Linked DNA regions of Homo sapiens: regions 1, 2, 3, 4, 6 and 7 are each linked to region 5. The links come from fine-mapping of genetic effects on gene expression. A gene starts in region 5. Each other region holds a variant in brackets. All regions are shown on one strand. Distances are from middle to middle. Region 1 has its middle 50 kb from the start of FAM245B. Region 2 overlaps PTPN20 (protein tyrosine phosphatase non-receptor type 20). Region 3 has its middle 28 kb from the start of FAM245B. Region 4 has its middle 100 kb from the start of PTPN20. Region 5 holds the start of PTPN20 (protein tyrosine phosphatase non-receptor type 20). Region 6 has its middle 130 kb from the start of PTPN20. Region 7 overlaps GDF10 (growth differentiation factor 10).

Evidence for each region. PIP is the estimated chance that this variant, and not a neighbour inherited with it, causes the effect.
Region 1: its variant is fine-mapped to the expression of PTPN20 in skeletal muscle (GTEx, PIP above 0.99).
Region 2: its variant is fine-mapped to the expression of PTPN20 in whole blood (TOPMed, PIP above 0.99).
Region 3: its variant is fine-mapped to the expression of PTPN20 in thyroid (GTEx, PIP above 0.99). The same link has a PIP of 0.9 or more in aorta, atrial appendage, cerebellar hemisphere, cerebellum, esophagus muscle and nucleus accumbens.
Region 4: its variant is fine-mapped to the expression of PTPN20 in blood mononuclear cells (TOPMed, PIP above 0.99).
Region 6: its variant is fine-mapped to the expression of PTPN20 in whole blood (TOPMed, PIP above 0.99).
Region 7: its variant is fine-mapped to the expression of PTPN20 in whole blood (TOPMed, PIP 0.92).

The regions. Positions count from the first base shown.
Region 1 is chr10:46,688,891-46,692,959 of GRCh38, forward strand. No RefSeq gene overlaps it. Among named protein-coding and RNA genes, the nearest start is that of FAM245B, 50 kb to the right of the region's middle. The variant G/A (reference allele first, on the strand shown) is at 1,676.
Region 2 is chr10:46,995,086-46,999,154 of GRCh38, forward strand. All of the region lies in intron 9 of PTPN20 (protein tyrosine phosphatase non-receptor type 20), which reads left to right. Among named protein-coding and RNA genes, the nearest start is that of PTPN20, 86 kb to the left of the region's middle. The variant C/G (reference allele first, on the strand shown) is at 1,628.
Region 3 is chr10:46,766,942-46,771,010 of GRCh38, forward strand. It overlaps the pseudogene GLUD1P2. Among named protein-coding and RNA genes, the nearest start is that of FAM245B, 28 kb to the left of the region's middle. The variant G/A (reference allele first, on the strand shown) is at 1,698.
Region 4 is chr10:47,009,603-47,013,671 of GRCh38, forward strand. No RefSeq gene overlaps it. Among named protein-coding and RNA genes, the nearest start is that of PTPN20, 100 kb to the left of the region's middle. The variant T/C (reference allele first, on the strand shown) is at 1,650.
Region 5 is chr10:46,909,325-46,913,393 of GRCh38, forward strand. It overlaps PTPN20 (protein tyrosine phosphatase non-receptor type 20), which reads left to right and starts at 2,104. Exons shown (of 11, transcript NM_001042357.5): 1 at 2,104-2,177.
Region 6 is chr10:47,035,733-47,039,801 of GRCh38, forward strand. No RefSeq gene overlaps it. Among named protein-coding and RNA genes, the nearest start is that of PTPN20, 130 kb to the left of the region's middle. The variant T/C (reference allele first, on the strand shown) is at 1,598.
Region 7 is chr10:47,312,836-47,316,904 of GRCh38, forward strand. It overlaps GDF10 (growth differentiation factor 10), which reads left to right. Exons shown (of 3, transcript NM_004962.5): 3 at 1-742. Among named protein-coding and RNA genes, the nearest start is that of GDF2, 7.6 kb to the right of the region's middle. The variant A/G (reference allele first, on the strand shown) is at 2,414.

The DNA.
Region 1 (4,069 bases), 220 kb before region 5:
CAAGTATTTGTATGGACATATGTTGTCATTTCTCTTGGGATGACCTAGGAATGGAACTGCTGTGTCATATGGCAACTGTATGTTTAACTTTTTGAGGAACTGCCAGACTGTTTCCCATAGCATCTGTATCATTTTACATCCCTATAAGTAAGGAACCCTATAAGGGTTCCCATTTCTCCACATCCTCACCAACAGTTGTTGGGGTTTTGTTTTTTGGGTTTTTTTTTTTTGAGATTTTTTTTAAGTTATTATAGTCATTCTAGTGGGTGTGAATTGGTATCTCTATTATTATTATTATTATCATTATTATTTTAGAGACAGGGTCTTGCTCTGCCGCCCAGGCTGGAGTGCAGTGGCGCCATCACTGCTCACTGCAGCCTCGACGGCACAGGCTCAAGCAGATCCTCCCACCTCAGCTTCTCGACTAGCTGGAACTACAGGCTCAAACCACGCCTATCTCCCTATGTTGCCCAGGCTGGTCTCTAACTTCTGGGCTCAAGTGATCTTCCTGACTCAGTCTCTCAAAGTGCTGGGATTATAGGCAATGAGCCACCACACCTGGCCTCACTGTGATTTTTATTTGCATTTCCCTAATGAATAATGATTTCAACACCTTTTCATGTGTGTATTTCATGTGTTTATTTGGCCATTTGCACATTTTCTTTGGAGAAATATCTCTTCAAATTCTTTGCCCTTTTTTTTTTTTTTGAGACGGAGTCTCGCTCTGTCGCCCAGGCTGGAGTGCAGTGGTGCGATCTCCACTCACTGCAACTGCAGCCTCCTGGGTTTAAACCATTCTCCTGCCTCAGCCTCCCGAGTAGCTGGGACTACAGGCACCCGCCACTACACCCAGCTAATTTTTTTCTATTTTTAGTAGAGACGGGGTTTCACCATGTTAGCCAGGATGGTCTCGATCTCCTGACCTCGTGATCCGCCCACCTTGGCCTCCCAAAGTGCTGGGATTACAGGCGTGAGCCACCACACCTGGCCTGCCCATTGTTTCAATTGGATTATTTGTTTTTTTCTTATGGAGCTGTGATAGTTCTTCACATATTCTAAATACTAGACCCTTAACAGATACACAATTTGCAAATATTTAATCCCATTCTGTAGGTTGTCTTTTCACTTTCTTAATGATGTCCTTTGAAACATAGAAGTTTTTAATTTTGGCCAGGTGCAGTGGCTCACACCTGTAATCCCAGCACTTTGGGAGGCCAAGGCAGGCAGGTTGCTTGAGCCCAGGAATTCAAGACCAGTCTAGGCAACATGGTGAAACCCCACTTCTTTCTTTTTTTTTTTTTTGAGACAGACTTGCCCTGTCAACCAGGCTGGGGTGCAGTGGCATGGTCTCAGCTCACTACAACCTCCACCTCCCAGACTCAAGAGATTCTCGTGCCTCAGCCTCTCAAGTAGTTGGGATTACAGGCGCGTGCCACCATGCCCAGCTAATTTTTGTATTTGTAGTAGAGAGGGGATTTCACCATGTTGGCCAGACTGGTCTCGAACTCCTGACCTCAAGTGATCCATCTACTTTGGCCTCCCAAAGTGTTGGTATTACAGGAGTGAGCACTGTGCCTGGCCCCCATTTCTATAATACAAAAAATACAAAACTTACTGGGATGTGGTGGCACATGCCTACAGTCCCAGCTACTCAGAAGGCTGAGGTGGGAGGACC[G/A]CTTGAGTCTAGAGAGGTTGAAACTGCAGTGAGCCATGATGGCGCCACTGTACTCCAGCCTGGGCAACATGATGAGACCCTGTCTCAAAAAAATAAAAACTTTAAAAAAAATTTTTTAATTTTAAGGGCCAGGCGCAGTGGCTGATGCCTGTAATCCCAGCACGTTGGGAGGCCACGGTGGGCAGATCACAAGGTCAGGAGTTCGAGACCAGCCTGGCCAATATGGTGAAACCCCATCTCTTCTAATAATACAAAAATTAGCCGGGCGTGGTGGTGCGTGCCTGTAGTCCCAGCTACTTGGGAGACTGAGACAGGAGAATTGCTTGAACCCAGGAGGCAGAGGTTGCAGTGAACCAAGATGGCACCACTGACTCCAGCCTGGGCAACAGAGCAAGACTCCATTTCACCAAAAAAAAAAATTTAATTTTAATAAAGTCCAATTTATCTATTTGCTGTTTTTGAAACTGCATTTATGAGGAGATTTTGGGGAACAGGGTTAAATGGTGACAGAATAGTGTCCTTTGTGAGGATGTGAAATGGAATAATTTGGATAAATAAATAGGGTTTATGTATCATTGATTACTAATTCTTGCTACAGTATGATGAGGGCAATAACATGTTTGAAAATTTAACCTTAAAGTTTTGCTAATTCCAGTAGTAGCAAAATATTTATATAGCCCTAAATAAATTTTGAGGAATCAAAGGAGTGATACATAATAAGTGAATACATATAAAATGTTGATTGCAAACAAAGGAAAGATGATTGAGAGAATATAATTTGTCAGGGCATTTTATTTGCAGGACATAATAAAACTGGACAATAATATCTATCTCATACAGTCCTTGTATTAGATATATTAATCTTATAAAGTACATGAAAGAATGCTTAGCACATAGTATTTGCTATATGAGTATTATTTATTATCAGTAGTATTCTTATTAAGTATCTAGATTTAGAGCTACCCTGAGGCTCTACTGAATATAGTACGTAAGAAATTTCTCATTGTAACTTCCTCTTTTCTGTTTTGCACACATTTCTTGTAGGATTACCTGAAGAAATATTCTCAGTATTGTTCCACATCAAGATGGCCACTAGTAGCACTGAGCTTATATCTTACTAGCTAAGCTACTTTTTCAGAAAATGAACACTGTTTTCCTCAATAATTCCAACAAAATTTCTAGTTAAGTTTCTCATTAGACTAGGTTGGATCATGATCGTATTACAAAATAAAACATATGGTTAATGGGGTAGCATCTTTATTTTGGGCAGGTTGAGACATATTATGACCACTGCCCATGATGATTAGGTCCATTGCTCTCACATGGTGTGAACTAGCAGTGAAAGAGAGGTAGAACTTCAAAAAAGATTGAAATGCTGCTACAGAAGAAAAAGAAAATACTGAGGTCTCTGTAACCACAGATATTTATGTTATAAGAAATCAATACAGATTAAAAATTAGGTAAAAAAATTGATTTACTAATAATCTTGATCTTTAGCCACATTTCTCTGAAATAAATTTGCTATGATGCCGTGATGGGGATCAGCAAGCTACGTTTTCCAAGTTCCTTCAAGTGGGATCCTGCTACGTACTGCTATTGGGAGGTACTAGAGAAACATAGGCAAGAGAATGGAAGAATAGATCTCCTTTTCCTGTTTGTTTGCTGTCCTTGCTGATATTCTCCCAAGAACATCCCCTTGCCCTAGGAGCAGTAATTGTTTCAGTTTACCAATTTTTTCAGAGCCCCAGAAAGTGCCTCTTCAGAGGTAACAGCAGCAGTTGGAACATTTCTCTCCCTCAGAGGTCTAGCCTCAGCTCAGGAAGGCTTTTACTCTGAGTTTACAAATTTTAATAACTCCAGTCTCTTCCCTTTATTCATCTAAGCTTCTGAGGAGGTCCGTATGTGGCCACGAGATGGTGGTGATAGCTTCATCTTGCAGTCATTTTCTTTGCTTTCCACAGTGTTGTTACTTTTTTCTCCTATTTCCTATGTGGTCAATTTTTTAATATTAACTCATAGTCATAGTGTAGTATTCATACTTTATGTGAAATGAAATGTTTTTTATAATGTAGCCATGGCCTACCAATAGCATATTTTCTTTTAGATTTCACAATATATATTTTGCTTCAGTGACTTTATATGCTTTTTTGTTGCCCACATTAGTTTTTTATATACAAAACATCCAATATTACCCTGGTCCCATCATTTCTTCTGATATCCATTGTCCTGTGATTTCTCCTGGAAAGTGAATTGTTTATCTGTCCATTTCACTCTGTGAAGTCATACAGGTCTATCTATATAGAACTCCTGTGCTCCAATTTATTCCTTGTGTGAAACTGGGCAATTTTTTAATCTCGGAATATGTTTCTTCATATGCAAATCAGAGATAACACT
Region 2 (4,069 bases), 86 kb after region 5:
GGAGCTCTTATATGGCTATCTCATGAGGGTCAGTCACTGGTTCCTTGCTTTATCCATTTGGGGAGGTCATGGTTTTGTGTTGACTGCAGTTTCTTCTGGATGTGCAAGAAATATATATCTTGTATTGATGTCTTTGAATGAAGGATTAGTTATTTATTCCAGTGTTCTCTGTCTGGCTTATTTTTGTTTTTTATTGAATGTATTTGGTTATAGATTCTATGTAATTTACCTGTCGAATTTTTTTTTTCTTTTTTTTTTTTTTTTTTTTGGTGAGGGGCTAAGTTGCTGCCTTCTTTTTGGCACTAGATGTCACCTTACGACCAAGTTTGCCTTGGCTCCAGTAAACAATAAGAGAGCTGCTCATTCCAATTAGGGAAAGTCTCAAAGGAGATATCATGGCAGTGTGGGAAAGGTGGCTAGAGATTCATGCCCAGGGGTCCTGTGCAATGTATCTTCTGCAATGTGGTGCTACTAAACAACCACTCTGGTTTGGCATCTCCTTTAGCTGAGTTACAGACCAGAGTTTCCAGGGCTGGGGATGGTAGTCCCACCTCACCTGTTTGTTTCTGACTCTTCTCAGGGTATTTCTTTCTTCAGGCACATGTAGTGCTTCCTGTGGGTTGAGGTAGGGACAGGTTTCCTGCCAGGTAACCCAGATGGTGGGAAACCTGGATGTCACCTTTTCTGGTATAGAAATCATGAATCAGGTGGAGATTTTTTGCACTCTTGGTGCTGGGCAAATTGGAGAAATGGGCATTGCAGATGTGGAAACCCAATTCTCTTACTGCCTACTTAGAGTTTTTTTCCCATCTCTGTGGATCCAGGAACTGTCTTCTCCTCGTATTTGATTTCTGGGATATTGTTGGTGATAATTTCAGTGCTGTATATTTGGTTTTGGTTTTCTTTGTAAAGAAGTGAAGCCAGCTTGCTTCTACACTGTTATTTTGGAACCAGAAGTCCTCTCTTGTCTTTTTAATCTAATTCTCTTTAAGATAATTATTTTATCTTTGAATTAATTATTTTTTATGTAAATTACAAATAAGTCTTAATGGTTCCTTTGCTTTGTTAACCAGTACATCTTTGGAAATAACACAAGTGTAGTTTTAGAGCTTCACAATCAATAATGACTATAAAACTCAATATATGAGGAATCATAACTCCAAGTGAAAATTATATAACTCTTTGTCTTCATTTCATTGCAGTCACTTCCATCTTCATTATTTGGTTAACCACTACAGCCACATTTGGAAAGCTGTGTCTTTTCTTAACTGAACAGTCCAGTCATGCTTGTTTTATAGTCAGTAAACTGATTAAAAATTAGTAATTCAAATGTATTTCCATAATTTGCCTAATCTTAAATTATAATTAAAAAAATGCTTTTAAAGAAGTTACAGTTTTTAATTCTGATGAGATTGTATTTTATTAGTTTTTCCTTTTATGGATCATGTTTTGATATCAAGTCTAACAGCTCATCACTTAGCTGAGGGCCTGAATAATTTTTTTGTGTTCTTTTATGAAAATTCTGTAAGTTCATATTTGACATTTAAGTCCATAGTCCATTTTGAGTTAATAAATTATTAAATTTAGGTGAAGATTCATTTTTTGGCCTATTGATGGCTAGTTGTTT[C/G]AATATCATTTATTGAAAATTCTGTTATTCCTCTATTGAATTATTGTTGTACCTTTGTCAAAAATTATTGGGCATATTTGTATGGGCCTATTTCTGGTTCCGTATTCTGTTCTATTGATTAGTGTGTCTATCCTTCTGCCGGTACCACCCTTTGGATTATTGTAGTGATATAGTAAGCTTTAACATCAGATAGAATGATTCCTCCCACGTTATTCTCCTTTTTCAAAATTGTTTGAGCTATCCTAGGGTCTGTGCTTTCTCTAATAAATTTTAGAATTAGTTTGGCTACATCTACACAAAACTTGCTGGGATTTGGATGGAAATTACTTTAAATCTGTAGTTTAATTGGAGAGAGCTGATATCTTTACTGTATTGAATCTTCCAATCCATGAACATGGTAAGTGTATTTATTTAGGTCTTTTTTGAATTCTTGCATCAGCATTTTGTCATTTTCAGTGTATAGATCTTGTATATGTTTTGTTAAATTTACCCTATTCATTTTCTTTGGAGCAATTGTAAATGGTATTGTGTTTGTACTTTCAGTTTCCACATATTCATTGCTAGTACGTAGAAATTTAATTGATTTTCATTTGTTGATCTTGTACCCTGTGATCTTGTTGAAATTACTTATTAGCTCTTAGAGGTTTTGTAGGTTTTTTTTTTTTTAGATTCTTTAGTGTGTTCTACATAGACAGTCATGCCATGTGCATATAGATTTGTCTCTTCCTTTTTGATCTGTATACAATCTGTATACATCCTACTTATTTTCTGGTCTTATTGCTGTACTAAAATGTCAAGTGCTATATTGAATAAGAGTGGTGAGAGCAGGCGTTGTTGCCATCACTGATCTCAGAGGGAAAGCAAACTAAAATTTTATGTTTTGTGAAAGACCCAATGAAGAGGATAAAAAAAAAAAAACAAGCTAGAGAGTAACTATATGCAGGGCACATATCCAACAAAGGCCTTGGATCTAGAATTTATAAGGAACCCTCAAAAATCAATAGTTAAAAAAAAAAGAAAAACAGAAATGGGTAAAAGACATGAACAGACAGTTCACCAAAGAGAACATACAGATGACAAGCACGTGAAAAGATGCTCAGCTTCATTAGCCCTTGGGGAAATGCTAATTAAAACCAGGATGGAGTAGCATTACACACCTATCAGAAAGGCTTATGTAAAAATAGTGACAGCACCCCATGCTGATGAAGATTTGGAAATGCTGGTGAGGATTTGGAGAATTATGTGAAGATTTGGAGAAACTGTATTGCTCATACATTACCCATATGTATGAGACATTGGGAATGTAGACTGGTACCAGCCACTACGGAAAACAATTGAGCAGTTTCTTGGAAAGAAAACAAAAACAAAACTAACTAAAGTTGACATATAACCCAGCAATAGCACTCTTGGGGCATTTATCCCAGATTAATCAAAATTTATGTTCATACAGAAACCTGTATGTAAATGTTCATAGCAGATTATATTCACAGTAGCCAAAAACCAGAACAACCCAGATGTCCTTCAACAAATTGATGGTTAAATAAAGTGGCACATATCCACATCATGGAATATTATTTAGCAATAAAAGGAAGCAAACTATTGTTACACCAACAACTTGGATGGATCTCCAAGTTATTCTGGGTGGGAAAAAAGTCAATCACAAAAGGTTAGCTATTGTGCAATTTTATTCATATAGTGAATTTTGCTATTTCTTCTTGAAATAGCAAAAGCATAGAGAAGGAGAACAGATTACTATTTTCCAAGGGTTAGAGATTGGGGTGGATGAGTGTGACTCTATAGGGATAGCAGGAGGAAGTCTTGTGGTGGAACAGCTCTGTATCTGGACTGTGGTTATAGTTACATGAATCTTCACATATGATATAATTGCATGGAGCTCTGTGCATGCACACATGCACACATACACACTCTCACACACTCACTAACAGTTGCATGTAAAACTGGTGAAATCTGAATTAAGCTTTGTGGATTGTCCCAATGTCAGTTTCCTGGTTTTGATATTATATCTTGTTAAACAAGATGACACCATCTGGGAAACTGGGTGAAAGATACACAGGGCCACCCTGTACAACTTCCTGTATATCTGTATTATAAAATAAAATTTTTTTATGGCAGATATGGTGGCTGACGCCTATAATCCCAGACCTTAGGAGGCCAAGGCTGAGGATCACTTTAGGCCAGGAGTTTGAAACCAGCCTGGGTAACAAAAATAAAAATAAAAAAGTTAGCTGGGCATGGTGGAACGCACCTATAGTTCTTGCTACTCAGGAGGTTGAGGAGGGAGGATTGTAGTTTGAGATTGCAGTGAAATATGATGACACCGCTGTACTCCAGCAGCTGAGACAACAGAGCAAGACCCTGTCTCTAAAAAACTAAAAGTTTTTTCAAAGGGTTAATTAAAAATTTTAATTATAAAAATGATAA
Region 3 (4,069 bases), 140 kb before region 5:
TTATGCTTGCTTTAGGATTAAGTAAGCTTGTTACCTCAAACAACAATTCCAACTAGGCTGGGGCAGTGGCTTACACCTGTAATCCCAGCACTTTGGGAGGCTGAGGCAGGAGGATGGCTCGAGCCCAGGAATTTGATACAAGCCTGGGCAATATAGTGAGATCCCATCTTGATTAAACAATATATTTTAAAAACAAAAAAGCTGGCTGTGCACGGTGGCTCACGCCTGTAATCTCAGCACTTTGGGAGGCCAAGGTGGGTGGATAACGAGGTCAAGAGATCGAGACCATCCTGGCCAACGTGGTGAAACCCCGTTGTAGACTAAAAATACAAAAATTAGCTGGGCGTGATGGCACGCGCCTGTAGTGCCAGCTATTCGGGAGGCTGAGGCAGGAGAATTGCTTGAACCTCAGAGGCAGATGTTGCAGTGAGCCGAGATCACGCCACGGTGCACCAGCCTGGCGACAGAGTGAGACTGTCTCAAAAACAAAAAACAATTCCAATTGGAGAAGGGCTCTGGCAAGTGGCAAGTCTGAAGCACACAGTTTGTAAATCACAAACATATAATGATAAAATCCTTCTCAAAAACAGTCTATACATGTTAAACATGCAACAGCTTCACCCACCCAAAACAAAATCACAAGGTATCAATTATTAGGCTTACTAGTTTTCTGCTCCATACAAACTAATGTATTGGGATGCACAGATTACAAGTAGCTCCTGAATAACAGATACGTTCTTCTTTTTTTTTTAATTTTTATTTTTTTGAGACGGAGTTTCACTCTTGTTGCCCAGGCTGGAGTACAACGGCATGACGTCAGCTCACTGCAACCTCTGCCTTCCAGGTTCAAGCAATTCTCCTCCCTTAGCCTCCTGAGTAGCTGGGATTACAGGTGCCCGCCACCACGCCTGGCTACTTTTTTCTATTTTTCGTGGAGACGGGGTTTCACCATGTTGGCCAGGCTGGTCTCGAACTCCTGACTTTAGGTGATTTGCCTGCCTCGGCCTCCCAAAGTGCTAGGATTATAGGCATGAGCTACCGCGACTGGCCTAACAGGTAAATTCTTATATAGAGAGCACGGTCTGAGGCAGAAGTTCATCTTTTTTAAAAAAGCAACTTTTCTAACAGCATGTGACTATAGAGTAGGAGATGAAAGGGTAATTTTGGTGCACAGAGATATAAGGGGATGAGAAGGGTGGAGACATCAGGGTCCTGCAGAACTTTACATAGGTGATATTTACACTCACACAAGGGAATGAACACTGACCTTTCAAAAGCTTTTCCAAAAACAGAAGAGGAAGGAACACTCCTCAACTCATTCCATGAGGCTAGAATTGTCTGGATACAAAGACTAGACAAAGACATCATAAGAAAACGATAGATCAGTGTCACTTAGAATAGCATTAAAAGGAATACAATACTTAGTTGTAAGACTTCTACAATGAGAACTACAAAACATCATTGAAAGAAATCAGAGACCTAAATAAATGGAAAGACATCTCATATTCAGCATTGGAAGGCTTAATATGGTTGAGATGGCAATACTGGTCAGGTGCAGTGGCTCATGCCCATAATCCCAGAATTTTGGGAAGCTGAGGTGGGAAGATTGCTTGATTCCAGGAGTTTGAGACCAGTCTGGGATACGTGATGAGACCATGTCTCTACAAAAAATTAAAAAGTTAGCCAGGTGCAGTTGC[G/A]CACGCCTATGGTTCTAGCTACTTGGGAGGGTGAGGTGAGAGGATTGCTTGAGCCCAGGAGGTCAAGGTTGCAGTGACTGCTGCCTGGTACTCCAGCCTGGGTGAAAGGGCAAAACCCTTTTGGGGAGGGTGGGGAAGATGGCAATACTCCACAAATTGGTGTGCAGATTCAATGCAATTCCTATCAAAATCCCAGCCTCTTTTTTTTTGTTTTGTTTTGTTTTGCAGAAATTTACAAGCTGATGCTAAACACACATGTGATAGGATCAGGGCTCAGGCTCAGGTCTGAGCCTCAATCTGACACTCTCTGTGGAGTGTCAGGAAATAACAGATAAATAACATCGAATTTGAAGGTTTGCCGAGAAGTGAGAGAAAAAACTCCCTTTGCCTGCCTCCTAGGCTTCAAAGCTGTCTGGGCCAAGACGTCAATTTAGCTGCATCATGGGTCAATGAGGCCTTTGCGAATTAGGCAAATAAATCAAGTTACTAGAGTTTAAGCTGTGTTTTCTTTCAGTATTCCAATGAATCACTTTTTGACCTTTGGAATTATTAGGTACTTGTCAAGACTGATAAAATTTAGCTGGAGATATTGCAGATATGGGCGATAAATATGACTGAATAAAGTCTGAAACCATTCAAGACTATAAAATGTGTTTGAGATTTAGGCGAGGAGGAAAGACCTTTTGAAAATTATGAAGGCTATTAACAGGCTGAACATGACTTCAATTCACCATATCTCAGAATCGGTAGGTACTCCTATAAAAGTGTGAGTGAGATAGTTAACTCATGTTAACAGGCTCCGTGTAATGATGCACAAATTCACAGTAGTGCTGGGTATGCGGCACGTCAAAGGCCCAAATGCCTTTTATTATGAAAGACAGGCCAAATCTAGTCAAGTTTTAGAGTTACCTATACTTACTGTATTTCTATATTAGGTTATTTCATGACATTTATTTCATGACTTTTTTCCTAAAAATGAATCTGAATAGCTTTATTTCTTTTCTCTTTCTTCTTGAGATGTGGTCTTGTTTTGTCACTTAGGCCAGAGTGCAGTGGCACGATCACAGCTCATGGTAGCCTCAACCTCCCAGGCTTAAGGGATCCTCCCATCTTAGTAGTTGGGACCACAGCCATGCACCATCACGCTTGGATAACATTTTCATTTTTTGTAGAGACGGGGTCTCGCTATATTGCCTAGGGTGGTCTTGAACTTCCAGGCTCAAGTGATCCTCCCACCTCAGCCTCCAAAACCTCCAAAAATGCTGGGATTACAAGCACCAGCCACCATGCCCAGACTTTATAGTTTAATTTCATAGGCATTTGTCCATGGTGGGGGAAATGCTGAGAAAGAAAGTAGAGAAAAATACACTTTATTTCCTATTTAAGTAGACCTTATTTTGTTTAACTATACTGATACTGATAGGGCAAGTATTATATTATTAAGTAACTATTAACATTCTATTAACTATACTGATAGGCCAAGCATTTTATTAAATAATTATGTATATTCTATTCAAACAAATTAGAAGCCTTCTAGATTAAAAATATATGTATAGAAAGGTTTAAACTGCCTGAAAATTAGAAGGTAAATGACAAATATTTACATATCATAGGAAAGAATGTTCAGATCACACACAAAGAACATATAAACACAGATAATAGTAAGATACGAAGACATCAAGCAAACGAAGATTAGTGTCTTCAAAAATGTTGTATGTTTGGCAAAAGCTCCTATCACAAATAGTAGGAGGCCGGGCATAGTGGTTCATGCCTGTAATCCCAGCTCTTTGGGAGTCTGAGATGGGTGGATCACCCGAGGTCAGGAGTTCAAGACCAGCCTGACCAACATGGCGAAACCCCATCTCTACTAAAAATACGAAAATTAGCTGGGTGTGGTGGCACATGCCTGTAGTCTCAGCTACTTGGGAGGCTGAGACAAGAGAATTGCTTGAACCCGGGAGGTGGAGGAGATTGCACCACTGCACTCCAGTCTGGGAGACAGAGTAAGACTCTGTCTCAAAAAAAAAAAAAAAAAAAAAAAAAAAAAAGATTTTTTTAGATGTTCCCACTTTATGCCAAAATCTATGTGGCTACACATACCAATAAAGCCCTTCTTTGCTAGCTCCATGGTGAACCTCCTTGTGATCTTTTCCAGTTTGTTATCCTGTAAAATAAGAAAACAATAAAAATAAAAAAAGATACAAAAATCGCTTGAGATTATAGCTAGCATCTTATTTTCTATTTATAGTACATTTTCATGTCTTCTCATCCTTAGAACAACTCATAAGGTAGGCAATGCCATTTTAAAGGTGAGAAAATAAGGGATCAAAAAAGTAGGTTATAAAAACAAGATAGTAGAACCAGGACTCAAA
Region 4 (4,069 bases), 100 kb after region 5:
ACCCAGATACATGGACATTCGTGCAGGTGTGTATCTCCTGGTGCTATGCCACTTGCCCTGTGACACACTTGCCCTTTTGACACACCCGTATAATAAGTAGGACAGGCAGGAACATGGTCATATTCCAATTGTCGACAAAAACAAACACTATAAAATATTTGAAGAGATTTAAGCATATTAGCACCTGAAGAGCCTGGAGAAGAACTTACATGGATAAAGTGACATCACTTCAGCTTCTGGTTATGAAATTAGGAATATTAGGATAAGGAGGAGTGAATTAAATATCCAAAGAGCATAATGTAATGACAAATTTGTTTTGTCTCTTTAGCTAGTATATAGAAATTTCATTATGCATAACTTGGCTGATGACAGTTCATCCTCCAAAAGGTTTTCCAAGATGGGCTCACAAGTTCTACTGTCCTTGATTTCTGGCATTCTTTCAATTAATTGAAGTTCTTTATATGTATGTGACATTTTGGCTCTGTATAAAATTCATGTGTCATTTTTTTCTCACTTGGAGGGCTTGTAGACATTGTTTCACTTACTTTCTCTTAACATTCAGTGTTGTTATGGAGGAATCTATTGTGTTGGAAACATAATTCTCATACACAGAGGGAGTGAGCACACTTTATTGTTTCATTTAACTGTTTAATGACTAGCCAGCTGGAAGGCAAAAGAGCTGGGTTGGAGAGTATTAACAAACAAGAATTGTTTTCCCCAAGCACCGTTGTCGACTCATTTATCTTTTATTTTTGAAAGTTTTAAATTTTATTACGTAAAAGTGAAGAAAATGGACATATATTCCACTAGAGTTTGTCATTAATATAAAGTCTTTCATTGACATGCTAAGTCATTTCTCTCTTTTTTAAAAAATTTCAACTTTTATTTTAGATTCAGGGGATACATGTGCAGGTTTGTTACATGGGTATATTACGTGATGCTGAGGTTTGGCATATGACTGATCCCACCACCCAGGTAATCAGCATAGTACTCAATAGGTAATTTTTGAACTCTTGCCTCCCTCCCTCTCTCCCCACTGTAGGAGTTCCCAGTGTTTATTGTTTCCATCTTTATGTCCATGAGTACCCAATATTTAGCTCCCACTTGTAAGTGAGAGCATACAGTATTTGTTTTATTTTGTTCCTGCATTAATTCATTTAAGATAATGGCATCCAGCTGCATCCATGTTGCTGCAAAGGACATGATTTCGTTCTCTTTATATGGCTGTGTAGTATTCCCTGGTGTATATGTACCACATTTTCTTTATCCAGTCCACCACTGATGGGAACCCAGGTTGATTCCATGTCTTCACTATTGTAAATTGTGCTGAGATGCACATACAAGTGCATGTGTCTTTTTGGTAGAATAATTTATTTTTCTTTGGATATATACCCAGTAATGGGATTGCTGGGTTAAATGGTAGCTCTGTATTAAGTTCTTTGAGAAATATCCAAACTGCTTTCCACAGTGGCTGAACTAATTACACTCCCGCCAATAATGTATGAGCATGCCCTTTTCTCCACAGCCTCATCAGCATGTTATTTTTTGACTTTTTAATAATAGCCATTCTGATTGGTGTGAGATGGTATCTCATTGTGGCTGCATTTCTCTAGTGATTAGTGATGTGGAGCATTTTCTCATATGTTTTT[T/C]GGTTGCATGTATGTCTTGTTTTGGGAAGTGTCTGTTCATGCCCATACCCATTAACTTCTCTTCAACATAGTCCTGGAAGTCCTAGCCAGAGCAATCATGCAAGAAAAAGAAATAAGAGATAATATAATTCTAAACCAAAAAACCCCTAAAGACCCCACTAGAAGGCTTCTAGAAATGGTAAACAACTTCTGTAAAGTTTCAACAGACAAAATCAAGGTACAAAAATCAGTAGCATTTCTATACACCAATAATGTTCAATCTGAGAGTCAAATCAAGAATACAATCCTATTGACAACAGCCACAAAAATATCTAGCAATACATCTAACCAAGGAGGTGAAAGATCTCTACATGGAGAATTAATTACACGCTGAAAGAAATCACAGATGATGCAAACAAATGGAAGAACATTCCATGCTCATGATTGGAAGAATCAATATCATTAAAATGGTCAACTCACTTTTAAACTCTTCTTGTAACCTTTTTTTGAGGGCCTCTCTCCTTTAGCTCTTCCTGTGTGGAAGCTGTAGTTTTCATCTACTGCGTATTCTTGAGCTGACTGTTGCTTTCTTTTCTACTATCTTCGAATGGCTTCCTTGATTGTTCTTTTCGTCTTTGGAAGCCACTTTTCCTCCTCTCTGCCAGCTGATGTTGACAGCTGGTGTTGAATCAGGGCAGGGGGCAACTCGGATTCTGCTCTGTTGTCTTTAAATCCATCCTCACCAACACTGTCCTGTAGGGGCAGGGGATGTCTCTGCTCCTCAGTTTCCAGCAGTACATAGTTTCTAAGGAGTGAATGAATGCAAATACCTGACTTTCACTGTGTGATCTCCTAGCATTTGGGTGAAGTAGGCCACCATAATGTCCTTTCGCTTTTAGAGAAACTGAGTGCCACCACAGGACCAAGAATAAGTAGCATAAGTATTGTCACAGAGAACCCTCAGGAGCTTTCCTTTTTCATGGAATGAGAAGAGACACATTTGAGTTTTCATTCTGCAGTGCCAACTAGGATGATTACATAGATCACATTTGACAGATAGAACAGCACCTCTGGCCCATTCTCTCCCAGGCCATTTTTTGAGAGAGGCAAGCTAGTCATGATGAATGCATAGTGATGATGGGGGTCACATTTTAACTCATGTTGCTGTCCAAGGTGTTTGGGAAATCTGTCAAGCTAATCCTCCTGAATTTTGGAATTCTTGTTTTGCTTAGAAGCTTCTGCTAATAACAGATAGACCCAAGACTTACTGGTTAAAAATGAAATAAGTCATAGTATATGTCAGCTGTGTCTAGGATTCAGCCCTCTATGTATACAGTTGCTCAAAGATTTTAAAGCCCCCTGCCCTGACTGTCTCAGGGAGCTGGAGAAGCTGCCAATGATGATCAAAGGTGACATGAGACTCAGGCCCTGCTGACCCTAGTAGCAGGCCAGGGACAGTTCACTCACCGAGCACAATTTCAACCAAGGAAACAAAGGGACAAAGGGAGGACAAAAAGAAATAGACAGTCTTTGAATCAAAATAGTGACTCAGCTGTGCAAGGCTCCCTTCACAATACCGCGGTTGGGCAAAGACACTTTTCCTCTTTGGCCTGACTTGATTTTATGTTGGCCTTGCACCACCCTGTACACAGGGTCCTCTGTGGGGTGCAGTTCATGTGCATGTTCTGCCCATGATGGGAAGTGGGATTGTGGGCATTTCTTTAAGTAGAAGTGGCTGTCTGTCCTTTCCCAGATACCAATAAGAATCTGAAACCCATTCGGTATAATGTCTTTCCTAGGCCAGAATCATTCTGCTCCATCTGGAACACATGCTATTCTTGTGTTCCAGGCTGTGAGAACAAGCCTCAACCCTGCAGGGCTGCTGGGAAGGAAAGGTGTGGGTACCCAGATGGGTCCTGGTTGCTGAGATCAACTTTCATTTGTTTCTTTCTCGAGAGAAAGACACTGGGGAGACCAGCACCAGGCTGGGCTTAGAACAGCCACATCTCCTTTCAGAACTGTTATTCTCCAATAATTCATGTAGAGCTTCCTCTTACCAGCACCCTCACAAAAATAATTCAACCCCTCTTGAAAAAAAAAAAAAAAAAAAGGGAAAGAAAACAGACCGCTGTTTTACAAGCTGATTGTTGGGTTGAAACTTTCAATACCTACCTCTGATATTAACCTTGGTTCAAACGTATTTCAATCTTTGCCATATTCATTTTGTATTATCAGTACCTAAGGTATTTTCTAGTCCCCAGAAACTTTGTTAAATGAGTGAATAAATAAATATTATGCAAGTTGGTAGCAGAGTGAGCTCATCCTGATTCTGAATATTAGCTGCATGCCTGTTCCATGCACAACTTGGGCTTGGAGACAGCTCCAGCATGCTGGAAACTGGGAACCCACAAAGGAGGCAGCTCCACCCGGAGGGCCTCAAC
Region 5 (4,069 bases):
CTCATTAAACACTTGCAACTGTGTCTCCTTTTTTAAAAAAAGGAAAACTGAGACACAAGTTGGGAAGTAACCTGCCAAAGGTCACCAACTATTCAGTAGCAAAGCAGGGACTTAAGGCCAGGCTTGCAAAGCTCCTAGTGCTACTGGTAATTGGTAAGACTCAAGGGTTTAAAGAGGCCTCCAAAGAAGGGTAGTAAACTGTGATGGGCCCTAAACTTTATAGTTCTTCGAATTTTTCACAGGTAAAAGGACAGAAAGCCAAGAAGAGCCTTCTGGGTCACTGGCTTCTGGGAATATTGTGTGGTCAAGCAGGAAGTCTGGGGGAGATGGAATGACACCTCAGGGTCCACTCTTACCAACTGTTCATTTAGCCTCCATGCAAGGATTTCCTGGTGATGTGAATGGGGGTTATTCCCTCTGTGTGTCTTGGAGCAGCCATGCTGCTCATGTTTGTGAAATGATGACCAGTGCAGAATCTTGATGTTAGGCACTATGAAGAAACATTAGACATGGGGTCCATCTTTAAAGGGGAATCTTACCCTGGTGATATAGTTTGGATATTTGTCCCATCTAAATCTAATGTTGGGCTGGGTGCGTTGGCTCATGCCTGTAATCCCAGCACTTTGGGAGGCTGAGGCGGGCGGATCACCTGAGGTCAGGTGTTCAAGACCAGCCTGGCCAACACAGTGAAACCTCGTCTCTACTAAAAATACAAAAATTAGCCAGGCATGGTGGCATGCTCCTGTAGTCCCAGCTACTGGGGAGGCTGAGGCAGGAGAATCACTTGAACTGGGGAGGTGGAGATTACAGTGAGCTGAGATCACGCCACTGCACTCCAGCCTGGGCGACAGAGCGAGACTCCATCTCAAAATAAATAAATAAATAAATAAAATCTAGTGTTGAAATTTGATCCCCAATGTTGGAGGTGGGGCCTGGTGGGAAGTGTCTGGGTCATGTGGGTAGATCCTTTATGAATGACTTGGTGCTAGTCTCATGGAACTGAGTGAGTTCTTAGTCTTTGTTTTCATGAGAACTGGTCATGGAAAAGAGCCTGGCACCTCCCACCTCTCTCTCTTCCTCTGTCTTGCACACATTGGCTCTCCTTTGTCTTCTGCCATGAGTGGAAGCTTCCTGAGGCCCTCATCAAAAGCGGGTGGTGGTGCCATGTTTCTTTTACAGCCTGTGAAACTGTGAAACTAACAAACCTCTTTTCTTTATAAATTACCCAGCCTCAGGTATTGCTTTATAGCAACACAAACAAACTAAGACATATGGCAATGGCGTGGGTTGCTTGCAGGGTACCTTGGCTGCTACAGAAAGAAAAAGTCTCTGTAGAGACTCACTGTCAGTGACTCACGGAGCAGAAGGCTGGCCTCAGAGCCTGGACAGAGGGTAGCTGTCACTGCTTAACTGCAGTTCAGCTCAAGCATATGGCTCTCTGTGGGACCAGCACTGAAGGCTGGGGGATAAGTGAGGCAGGTCTTGTCACACCTTCAGGGTATCTGGATTCACCAAAGTGGCTCAGGTCAGGACCAATGAATAGAGGTTTGTTCGTCAAGATAAAAAGATTCTGGCTTCCTGTTTTCAGGCAATGCCAACGATTGAATTCCCTCTACATTGACCACCCTTGCTGAAGTTGTCTTAATTGACCTAGCAGCCAACTGACCTCATATTCTGGCACAGGCTCTGACTCCTTTTGCCTATCTGCCCTGCTCTGATACTACAAAGAGACCCCCCCACCCCAGCCCTCTGGGGCCTCATTAGGGGCTTAGAGGGCAGGCGTGGGTCAGGCGAGCATTCCTGGAGAACACAGTCCTCAGTGGTTCAGGATATGAGCATAGCTCAGAGAGCTGTTGACATTATCAGCCTGGCCTGGGAGAGGGGGACCCGCACAGGGTGGTGCACAGGGCCCGCAGGGAATTTACAGCGGCGTCCGCGGCGATGGGCTCTCAGTGCCTTGGAAGACCGGTAGAGGCAGGTTCTGTCTCTCCCGGCCTGGCAAGCAGAGGGCCGCGGCGCAGGGCAGAGTGCCGCGGCGCAGGGCAAAGCTCCAGTGCGCAGGCTCGCGGGCGCAGGTGGGATTGGATAGCGACGAAGGCCGGCAGGCTAGGCGTGGACCCAACTGGCGAGGCTGCTGGGGTTGCAGCGGGACAGTTGGGGCGGCCCCGCAGGCCCAGGTGAGGAAAGGTGGCTGGGGGCCAGGTGGGCAGGGGGCGTGCGGGAGGCCGCTGCGCCGGGCTGTGGGAGGGCGGGCGTGAAGAAGGAAGATGCCGTTGACGTGCAGGGGTCACAAGGCGTGGGTTGTGGCCCTGGCCCGGGAGACTGCCCGGGTGGGCCTGAGCTGTGAAGTAGTGTCGCTGCAGCCAGAGGGCAGGACGTGATTCTGGCCGTGTGATGCCAGCTGCACTGTGACGCGTGTTGGGGCGCCTATGCGAGACGGGACCGGGACAGGAACCCTGTGGCTCTGTGGTAGGGGAATGCCACCAACTCCCTGAGGAGCAGCCGTGTGGTATGATTGGTAAGAAGCCATCATCAGGCGCTGAGACAGCCCAGAACTTCCCAATGACTCAAGGGCGGGTGGAGGTCGAGGGACCTAGAAAGAAAGAACATGAATTCATCAATCCATTCAGCAGCTATTTTGAACGCCTCCTGTGTGCCAGATGCTGTTCTAGAAGCTCAGAATATCTATGAACGCGATAGGCAATGCCCCCATATGCCAAGGCCCTCATATGCTAGCCTTGACTCAAGGAAAACTGTAGGATGGGGTAGGTTTCATTTTTGGAAGTTGTGGAATCAGTACTTATGTTTTGAATGTGTTAGGTTTGAGATGCCCAGTAGGTTTTTCCCAATAGAAGACATAAGCATAGCTGGGAAGAATTTTGCAGAGGACTCTGACCACCTACCACCTACAGGTGCCATGAATATTTAGCACATTTGATTTTTCACATTACCTATTCACCTTCTCTCCATTTATCAGTCACCTGGTAGTTTTTTTTAGTATGGTGAAATATACACACATAAATTATCTAGTAGATATTTGGGTTGAGATATCAAATGTGCTTTTTAGAAATTTAAATCTGAAGTTCTGGAGGATGTCGGGCTAGAGTTAACCTTTGGAATCGGCATCATATACTGTACATAGTATTTAAAATATATGGGACTGGTGAAGACATCTAGTTTAATAGTGTACACAAAGAAGAGGAGGCGAAGCCAAAAAAGGGAGGGAGGTAGTGGTCAACCATGTTGAATGTTACCGTATAAGATGACTTTGGTAATTAGGAGGATTTTAATCATTTTGACAAGAACAACTTTAATGGGGAAGAGGGGCCTTAAGGTTGGGTAGAGTTTTTTTCAAGATAGAAGAAAGCAGAATGTTTATATGGCAATGTGATTAAACTCGTAGAAAGGAAAAACTGCTGCAGATGAAAGAGGGGAACATTGTAAAGGGTAGTTGTTGAATACCTGAGAAAGGAGAAGACCCTAAGCAGGTGAGTAGTTGGTTTTGAAATGAGCAGGGACACTTACTCTGTTGTAACTAGAGGGGAAGCTGAGATAACAGGTGCAGATACAGTGGGTGGTGGGAAAAGAGTCTATTGGTATAGGCATCCATCAGCTTAGAGGGAGGGCAGCGGGGGAGAGGAAAGGTGTGGGAACTTGGAGGAGAGATATGTGACAGAGTCCTAGAGAGGGTGAAAGTGAGCGTACTAGAGAAATAGAGTTGGATTCCCAGGCAGTGCTCAGGGCCCATTTGAGACGTGTAGTCTTACATTTAAAGTGATATAAACCAGTGTGGTTGTTTCATGTTCAACTTTGGAAGGGTGTTGTGAGGATTAAAGAAGGTAATGCATGAAAAACATTTAATAGAGTGTCAGGCGTTTAATGAATGTTAACGCTTTTTATTTGAGCCCTCGTTTTGTTTTTCTTTTCTGTTTATACATATGTGACTGAGGATGGCTGGCAATTACCACTTGACAGGCTGTTCTGGGGCATGTTCTCCCATCACAGAGAACTGCAGTTTGCAGCTACTCAGAAGTCTGGTTCCTGTTGTGTTTACATGTACACAGCTTGA
Region 6 (4,069 bases), 130 kb after region 5:
CTTACCTTCTGAGGGGACACACACCTGGTGAACACAGCTGACAGCCAAGGGACAGACACCTGGCCATGAACAGCAAAATCAGGGTCCCAGATTGGGAAGTCTGACCTTCCCCCTGAGTGTCCAGCCCATGTGTGCAGCCAGCCCATGTCTGGAGAGTGCAACTTGGGACAAGGGGAAGGAGGTCAAGTCTATGCCATCCTGCCCTGTCCTGCCCACTTGTCCTTAGGCTCGGAGAGCAAAGCTTTAGGCATTGAAAAGAAATCTCTGGGACCCCAAGGTCCCAGGTGTGGGGCCTGGCAGGTGTGCTGGGAGCCGGCTCTCTGCCCCCTTCCTCAACTAGGCCTTGGGCATTGTCCCCCCAAGGACCTCCTGTGACTGGAGGCTCCTGTGCCCTCCCATCCTGGGGCCCGACGGGTCAGGATGCCCAATGCAGGCTAACTGCACTCTCCAAGCCTACCCTCTCCCTTTCTCACTGCTCCACACACAGTGAAATGCTCCACTTTCATTTCTGGAGCCCACTTGGTCCTCTGCAGATTTGAAGGTGTTTCCCAGGAAGGCAGGTAGTTCAAGAGGCTGACTTGGGAAAATTCATCAGAGAAGCCCTGGCTGGGGAGGAGAGTGAGGGGCAGGTGTCAGGACACTCACACCTGGCATCTGGGAGGTGGCCCATTTCTGAGGGTCTAGAAAGAGCAGTGCTGCTCCTTGAGAGGGGTGTGGCTAGCGAGAGCAGCCTGTGCTTGTTAGGGTCAGAGGAGATGCGCTTGAATCCCAGCTCTGCCTTTTCCCATCTGTTATCACTTTGGACAAGGCACCTAAATTGCTCCAACCCTGTTTCTGCACAGGTGTGGGCTGACTTTAGTAGAAAATGAATTTATTGAACAGATGGGGTGGTTGACAGAGAATCCTGGAGCACAGGCTTGGAGAACAGGAAGGTATCAAGGCAAGCTTGACCACCGAGGTCAACCTGGAGGTGGGGGTGGGTGGTGGCGAGGTGTGGGCCACACCCCACCACCCCACTGTGAGGCCTGGCAGAGCTTACTGCTGGGTGGCAGAGTTCAGGTAACAAGTAGGTGGGTGCAGCAGCAGAAAGATGGCTGAGTCTGGACTGCCCTGCTCCGTGTCTGTAGCAGCAGCTAGGTCCTGAATCCTGCAGGACTCATCCATGCTGGGGCCAGTTCTTCAAGCACTAAGGGCGTTCAGAGGCTTGACAGCCAATAGAGAGAACAAGAGGCACTCTAATGCCCAGCGCGTCTGCTTTCTGGGGGATCCTACAGACTAAAGATGAGGTCTGTTGGGTTCCTGACTCCCGGAGGGCCATCACTGAGTAACCAGAGGTTCTGTCTCTGACAGCTTCTCTATAGCCACAAATCAACTCCCTCATCCTGCGTCTCCACTGCCCAGTGAAGAGGCACCTGCCAGTCCCAAAAAGGACCTCGTGCGGCATCCAGGGTCACCTTACCCACCTGGCTCAGGCTCCAAATGCACACACAATGCCTGGATCAAAGGGAGGAGGAAGAGGCTCACTGGTGGATACACTTTTATGTCACAAACCTAAGGAGAAGAGGAAAGAGCTGTTTGAATGAGTAATTTTGGATCT[T/C]GGAGGATAATATGGAGAGGGTCATTTGTCTTTGGATTTTAACCGGGACTTCCATGGAGAAAAGTTGGGGGCTGTTACTAGACATCCTGCAGGTTTGGGAGGTGTAAAAGCTCTAGCCCTGCTCCAGCAACAGGATCAAGGCAACATTTCACCCTCGGCTTATTCTGCCAAAGATGCAACAAGACAAATGCCAAAAAGACAGTCTTTAGAGTTAGTACATGTGGCTTTGAGGCCCACCTCCCTTCCCTAACAGCTGGGTTCTATTTAACTTTGCCAAGCCTTGGTGGCTTTCCTTCAAATGAAAATCAACGTCTATTGCCCAGGGACATTATGAGGCTAAACTAAAATAGTTTTTCTATACCTCCTAGAATAGGAGACAGTAAATTTTCTCTATAAAGAGTCAGAGAGTAAATATTTTAGGCTTTCAGGCCGTAGGGTCTCTGATGCAACCACTCAACTCTGCCATCATAGCCTGAAAGCAGCCATAGGCAGTGCATAAACAGATCAACCTGGCTGCATTCCAATAAAACTTCATTGATAAAAATAGATAGCAGGCTGGATTTCGCCTGCAGGCCTTGGTTTGAGAAGCCTCCCCTGGAAAATAGTAGATACTCCTCTGCCAGAGAAGGCTGGATTGAGTAATAAAGAAATTGAGGATTATGCTCAGCAAAAGGGGGCATGGAGAATGGCTGAAGGAAGGAGGAGGGGCTCAGAAGGTGTCCCCAGAAAATTACTGGTTTGCACCTTACAGCATCTGCTTCCCACACTCCCTGACAGACATGGCAGTCCCCCCTCGAATACCCCCGCACCCAGACCGAAGCGTGTCCCGGACCCCTAGAGTGGGCTGGCCACATGGGTGCATTGAGTGGGAGGTGCTGCCCAGTCTTGAGGCTGGATGATCTTTCCAAACTGGATGACGTGTGCCATCACTGAGGGGTCCTGACCGCAGGAGAGTGGGCAAGGCTACTGCAGCACTGCTAGTCCTGGCAGGGATCACACTTGCTTGGGTGGTGATGTGCTCCTGTGACCCCTTCCCTGGCCGGTGGAAGCTTTGGAGCCAGTCCTCTAGTACAGGATCACCCTCTGTGCAGGAATCATGGCAAGCACTCTCATCAGGACCTAAGTCACCAGATATTGACCCTAGTGGTCGTACATTTGCCGCCTTTACTTTAGATTCAGCAGTGGAGTCTGGTCCATCTGCCTGGGGCTGGGAACTGGGGTGAGTGTGGAGGGGGAGAGAGCATTCAAATGGTACCTAGGGATGTTATCTCATCCCATGTGCAAGGGTTTGAGCTCCCATCACTCACTTAGATCACCCCAGTCCCCGACCTCGCATGTGGGGGAGCCAAACCCTTCAAGAAGCTCACAGCCTCCTGGTAAACAGAGAACAACAGCAGAAGCTATTCAAGGTTACATTTTGGTTTTTCCCTGCCTGTCTATTTTCCATTGTTCAAGATTATTCTTGAATTTTAATCTGTTTTGATGATGGAGATGTAGACATTCAGAACTGTCCTAAACTTCCTCCTGGGTCATAAATGTGTTGCCATTAACATGAGACTGTCCCCCCACAGATCCCCTCCCTCAGGCTCTGGATGGCTGCTGGGGGAGTGCCCCTAGCCTGCCGCCAGGCCCCACAGCCACACCCTTTGTGACGGGTGCTGGGCCCTGATAGGAGCATCCCCCAATCTGTACTTGGTGAAGCAAGACCTGTCACTGTCACCTTTTATCATACTCTCACGGGCTGCTGGCTTTCTCAGCCTTCTTCCTGGTCTGTGCTTGTCAATGTCCCATTAGCAGAAGGACAGACAGTGGGAGAAATCTGTGTCCTCTCCCTTGTGTATGACCCCGTAGTCTTTAATTAGCTCATGACACCAGTGGTCTATAATTTCCGCCCAAGACCTGCTTTGATTTTTGCAACACAAACATTGCGCGAGGACCACTGATAAGGTTCAGGCGGGACAGAGCAAAGAACCCAGCACTTCTCAAGCAGATGGCCAAGGGATTGCATGGCCCATATCGCTAATCCCTTAATGAGGGCCTGGGGGCTGCTGAGGGCAGGGGCCAGGGGGAGCGAGGGCTGGAAAAGCATAGCCCAGGCTACGCAGATGCCCCAGGAATGTCTTACACTAACAAACCAGCCTGCAGGGCAGCCCCTCTGGCCTCATCGTCATGCTCATGGAAACTTGTGCTAATTATGGACAGAGCAATGTGGCTCTGCAAAGGAAGCTCCTTTGAAATCTCATGGCCTCTGATGATAATGCTTCAGAGCTGTGACATTAACACAAACAGGCCTTGGTAGGTGGGCAGGGTGAGAATGTGCTGGCCCCGCAAGGCCTACCCAGCCACGCCTCGTGGAATGATGCTGCAGGGGGGACGGCTCTGCCATGCACCACAGCTGCTGCTGATATGTCTGTTCACAGCAGTGACCATTTTCTCCCCACTTGCTTTAGCTTGAGGTTTGGATTTCACCAT
Region 7 (4,069 bases), 400 kb after region 5:
TTCTCGGAGCCTTCTGCAACCAGGACTTGTGGTGCAGCTGCAGACACAGAGCACAGCTCATGGGCAACATCACTGGGGCCCAGAGAGAGCTGTCCGCCAGTGCATCATTAGGGGGTCTTTCATTGCTAGTGACTAGCCCCTTAAATGCCAGCCTGAGTACCTGAAGGAATCTGGGAATTAGCCCTGGCCTGAAAGTGGCCCATCATTCATACCCACTGTTCTGAAGGCTTGAAAACAAAACATATCCACAACATTGGCTTGATGTGATCATCATCTCATAACTGAGCAAGAAGACTATGCAAATCTTAGGGCGCTCGCTCCCTGCACACGGAAAGAACTCTGTTTAAATGCTCAGTTCAGAACACTTTGGGCCACATAGTGATTTTGGAAAACAGGATAATCGTGGTGTAAATGAGTGTTTCCTTTCAAAGTCCACTGCAGAGCTTTTATCCATATGGTATGCACATGTAGCCAATATTGGTTTCTTTTTCTTAATATATATATTTTATTTTAAAACAACAAAAAGGGAGGGCGTTGACACCATTCCCCACAGAGATAGTCATGCTGAGTGTGGGTTGTTTAAACATGCATATTGAAATAACACATATAGTAACGTGGGAATACTAAAAAATAACCAAGATTTTATATTTTTGTAAATTATACTTTCTATACTGTAGATTGTGTATGTTATGTGTTTTTATGGAAAGCTAATAAATTAAAGGTACAGTGGTATCTTGAAAAACTGAATGTCACCCATTTCAAAATCTCACTGGCTCCCCATCTGTAAGTACACCATCTGGTGGTTGCTGGGGTCTCAGCCTCTTTTAGGGTCGCTGGAGTCCCCTAAGCCATCTCCATACTCCCTGGTGTCTGTCCCAGGCTCCAGAAACCCAGGCTTTCCCATGCTTTCCAGGGGCCTGTCCCACTACTGGTTCCTGCAAACCCAAGCTAGGCTGATGTTGAGAATGGACATGGCTCCAGACAGGGACAGTGGCCTCTCGGGGTTTCTCCTCATCCCCTAGCCTCAGGGACATGGATTGATTGGGAGGTGCCTGGGGTGTTTAAAAAAACATCTATGGTTGCCTGGTCAGAGATCTTTTACTTCTGGTAATTCATGGAGCAAGAGATTCAACATAAGTAGGGGTCTCTCCTGAGGTCCAAGGACTCATGAGGAAGTGGACGGGCCATGTGGTCTCCTGCACCTGCTTCTCTTTTGCTTGTGTGTAGAAGGATCACCCAAGCCACCCCAAATTGTTCCCTTATGCCCTTCGTTTACATTGCCTTATGATGGAGTGCCTGAAGCTGCTTAACCAGCATTTCTGAAAGAGAATCTGGATCCAATTTGAGACAGGTGTATATATAGCAGTCCCATCAGCTGGGACCTACAGATGACGTGGCCCCAAGTCTTAGAGGAAACTGCAAAGCCATAGTGGTTTTCTAAGAGGGGATGTCCAAGGAGAGAAGCAGCTCTGGTGTCTGTCTTGGGCCTTAGGCTGGGCTCTGGAGACCAGGATTCCTGTGCAAGGGATATATGGGGAAGTGCTCTCAGGAGACATGGGCAAGGGTGAGGTGAAGCAGAAAAGCAGGCTGGGAGCAATCCTGTGGGGAGCTTTGGAGCTTAGTTACTCCTCAGGGCAGTGTGGCCTCGAGCAAGGGAGCTGGGTGTTCAGGGCCTCTTGGCTTCTGGCTGCCCTGGGAAGGGCGATGTAAAGTCCCAGTTCCCTGGCCTTCTGCCCAGGCAGCCACAGTGATTCCAGGAGCCTAGGTAGCATCCGAAGAGTGGCAACTCCTGGAGGCGAAGCCATTGAAACTGGAGAATGATTAGCCAGAACTGGTAGGTGAGGGGGATGCGAGGGTGCCAGGGTGAAGCTCCGCAGCTTCTGCTCAGCATCTCCTATGAGGTGCTCCAAGTGACCCTGGGACACATGCGTGAGCAGCTGCCGTGGGGACCCCTACCTGCTGGGCACATGGCCCTGCCTGCTGACAGAGGTCAGGGGAGTGGTGGGATGGTCCTCCACACTCACCACCTTATTCCCTTACTCCCACAGGAACTGGACATGGGACCAAATTGTTCCCTTCAAGCTGCTATAGGTTGCTGGGCTGGCGCAAACTGGCCTGCACTTTAGTGCTTGGTTTGCCATGTCTAATTCTCTTTGGAACATGACAGGATATAAGTTAATAGCAAAATAAGTAAAAATATTGGGGCTTAATAAAACTCCAAGTCCCTTTCTTCTGAATATTCCATCCCTCATTTTCTTCTCATTCAACTGCCCCCTTTCTATTTTTGCTAAACATGGGCTGTCCAATAGTAGTTTTATCTTATTCTTTCTAGCACTTGCAGTTTCTGGGAGGCCTTCTGGATTCCCCCCAAATACCTGGAATGCCTCTGAGTCCTCATGTCTGGCTTACTGGG[A/G]TTGGGGAGGGCAGGCTGGGACACTCTCCCTGGGTCCAGCTGTGGGCATGGCCTCCAGGCCTGTGCCTGGATGGAAGGTGCTCAGTTGTTGCCATCTTTCCTGGGCATGCCCTGAAGACCTTGGAATGTGAAATGGGGCAGGTCCCAACTGGGGACATGACATGTCCCAACTCTACAGTAGGAGAAGCTGGTATCATTAGTGACCCCTCCAATGTATAGAAGACCACGCAGTTACAGGATCTTGCTTAGCCTCACAGCAGCCTTGCAACTTACTGCCCAATTGGAGCTGCAGAAAAACAAGCTCAGGAAGGGTAAGTAACATGTCCATTGATGTCTTGCCAAGACCACAGGGAACATTAAGTTTGATGCTCAAGGCCGCCTGATTTAAGGCCTACATGACTGGCACTGACCCTGAACTTCCTGGCCAGTGATCCCCAGTCTGCTAGGATTGTCCCAACAACACTGAGGTTGGGACACAGTAAAGTGAGGTTAAAAAGAAATATGTTTATGAAATAACTTGTTTTTCCCTTAAAACAAAAAATGTCAACATTACATTGTCATAAGAGCCCAAAAGATTCCATCATACGGTCTGGACACGGTTTGCTGATGTCACTCAACTGGGCCTGTTTCATTCTGGAGGGAGCAGGGTGGTGGCCTGCAGCTGGGCCGCATCTCTGAATTTACACATCCTCTAGAAGGGCAGGGCCTCTTATAGATTAGTTCATGTGACAAACATAAATAGTACCATTGAGAGCTAAAAACTTGAGGGCTGGGAGAAAACTTCAGAAGGCTTCCAATACAACCTTTATACTTGAGAAATGGGGAGACTTGAGTCCTGGTACTACCAGGTGTTTTGCCTGGGGTGTCCCAATAGGTGCCTCTCTATGACTTCATAAAATGTCATCAGAGCAGAAGCTTATAACTCATGTTTCTTCTGTGGCCAGGATGGAGACAAAGCTGTGACTGAGGAACTTATGCATGTCTGAGGTGGGAAGGGGAGGATGAGAGGAGGAGACTCTGGAGGAGGAGGAATGGAGACGACTCCACAAAGAGGCTGACTTTGAGACCAAGCAGGACGAAAGAGCCGGGCTTGGCTGGTGGAATAAGGACATCACAAAGAGCGTCTGCAGCAGCGCATGCCAGGGAGGGCTTGAAGGTAGTGTCAGTGAGAAACCAGGAGGGCTGGCCAGCTGGCCAGCTCTGGCTGTGACTTGTGCACCAAAACACCAACATTAGAGTTCAAAACTATTTCCCTTTATCAAAACCTGGAAACATAAGATCCTTCACAGGTGTTTCTGGGATTTCCATTCCCCTTCTCTCTGCTCCCTGAGATAATAATGTCCATGAATCCTCTATCTATCCTGCCTCCAGTCCGCTCACTCACGCTCAGCCCAACCCCAAGCCATGCTCCTCTAGCATCTCCCAGCAGGCTTGTTTGTATGGGTCAGGGATAGGTGGGTCAGATGGAGAAGAAATATGTTTATTTATCCAATTATGTAGCATTTACTATGTGCCAAATACCATGCTAGGCAATGTATTCATATGTTTTCTCTTGGAAGGCTCTTATGAGTTCCCTCTTTTGTCAAAACCACTGTGCAAAATGCCTATCAGAGTTGCCTGGAGAGCTTGACACAGTTGGGCCCCCTAGCATTGTTT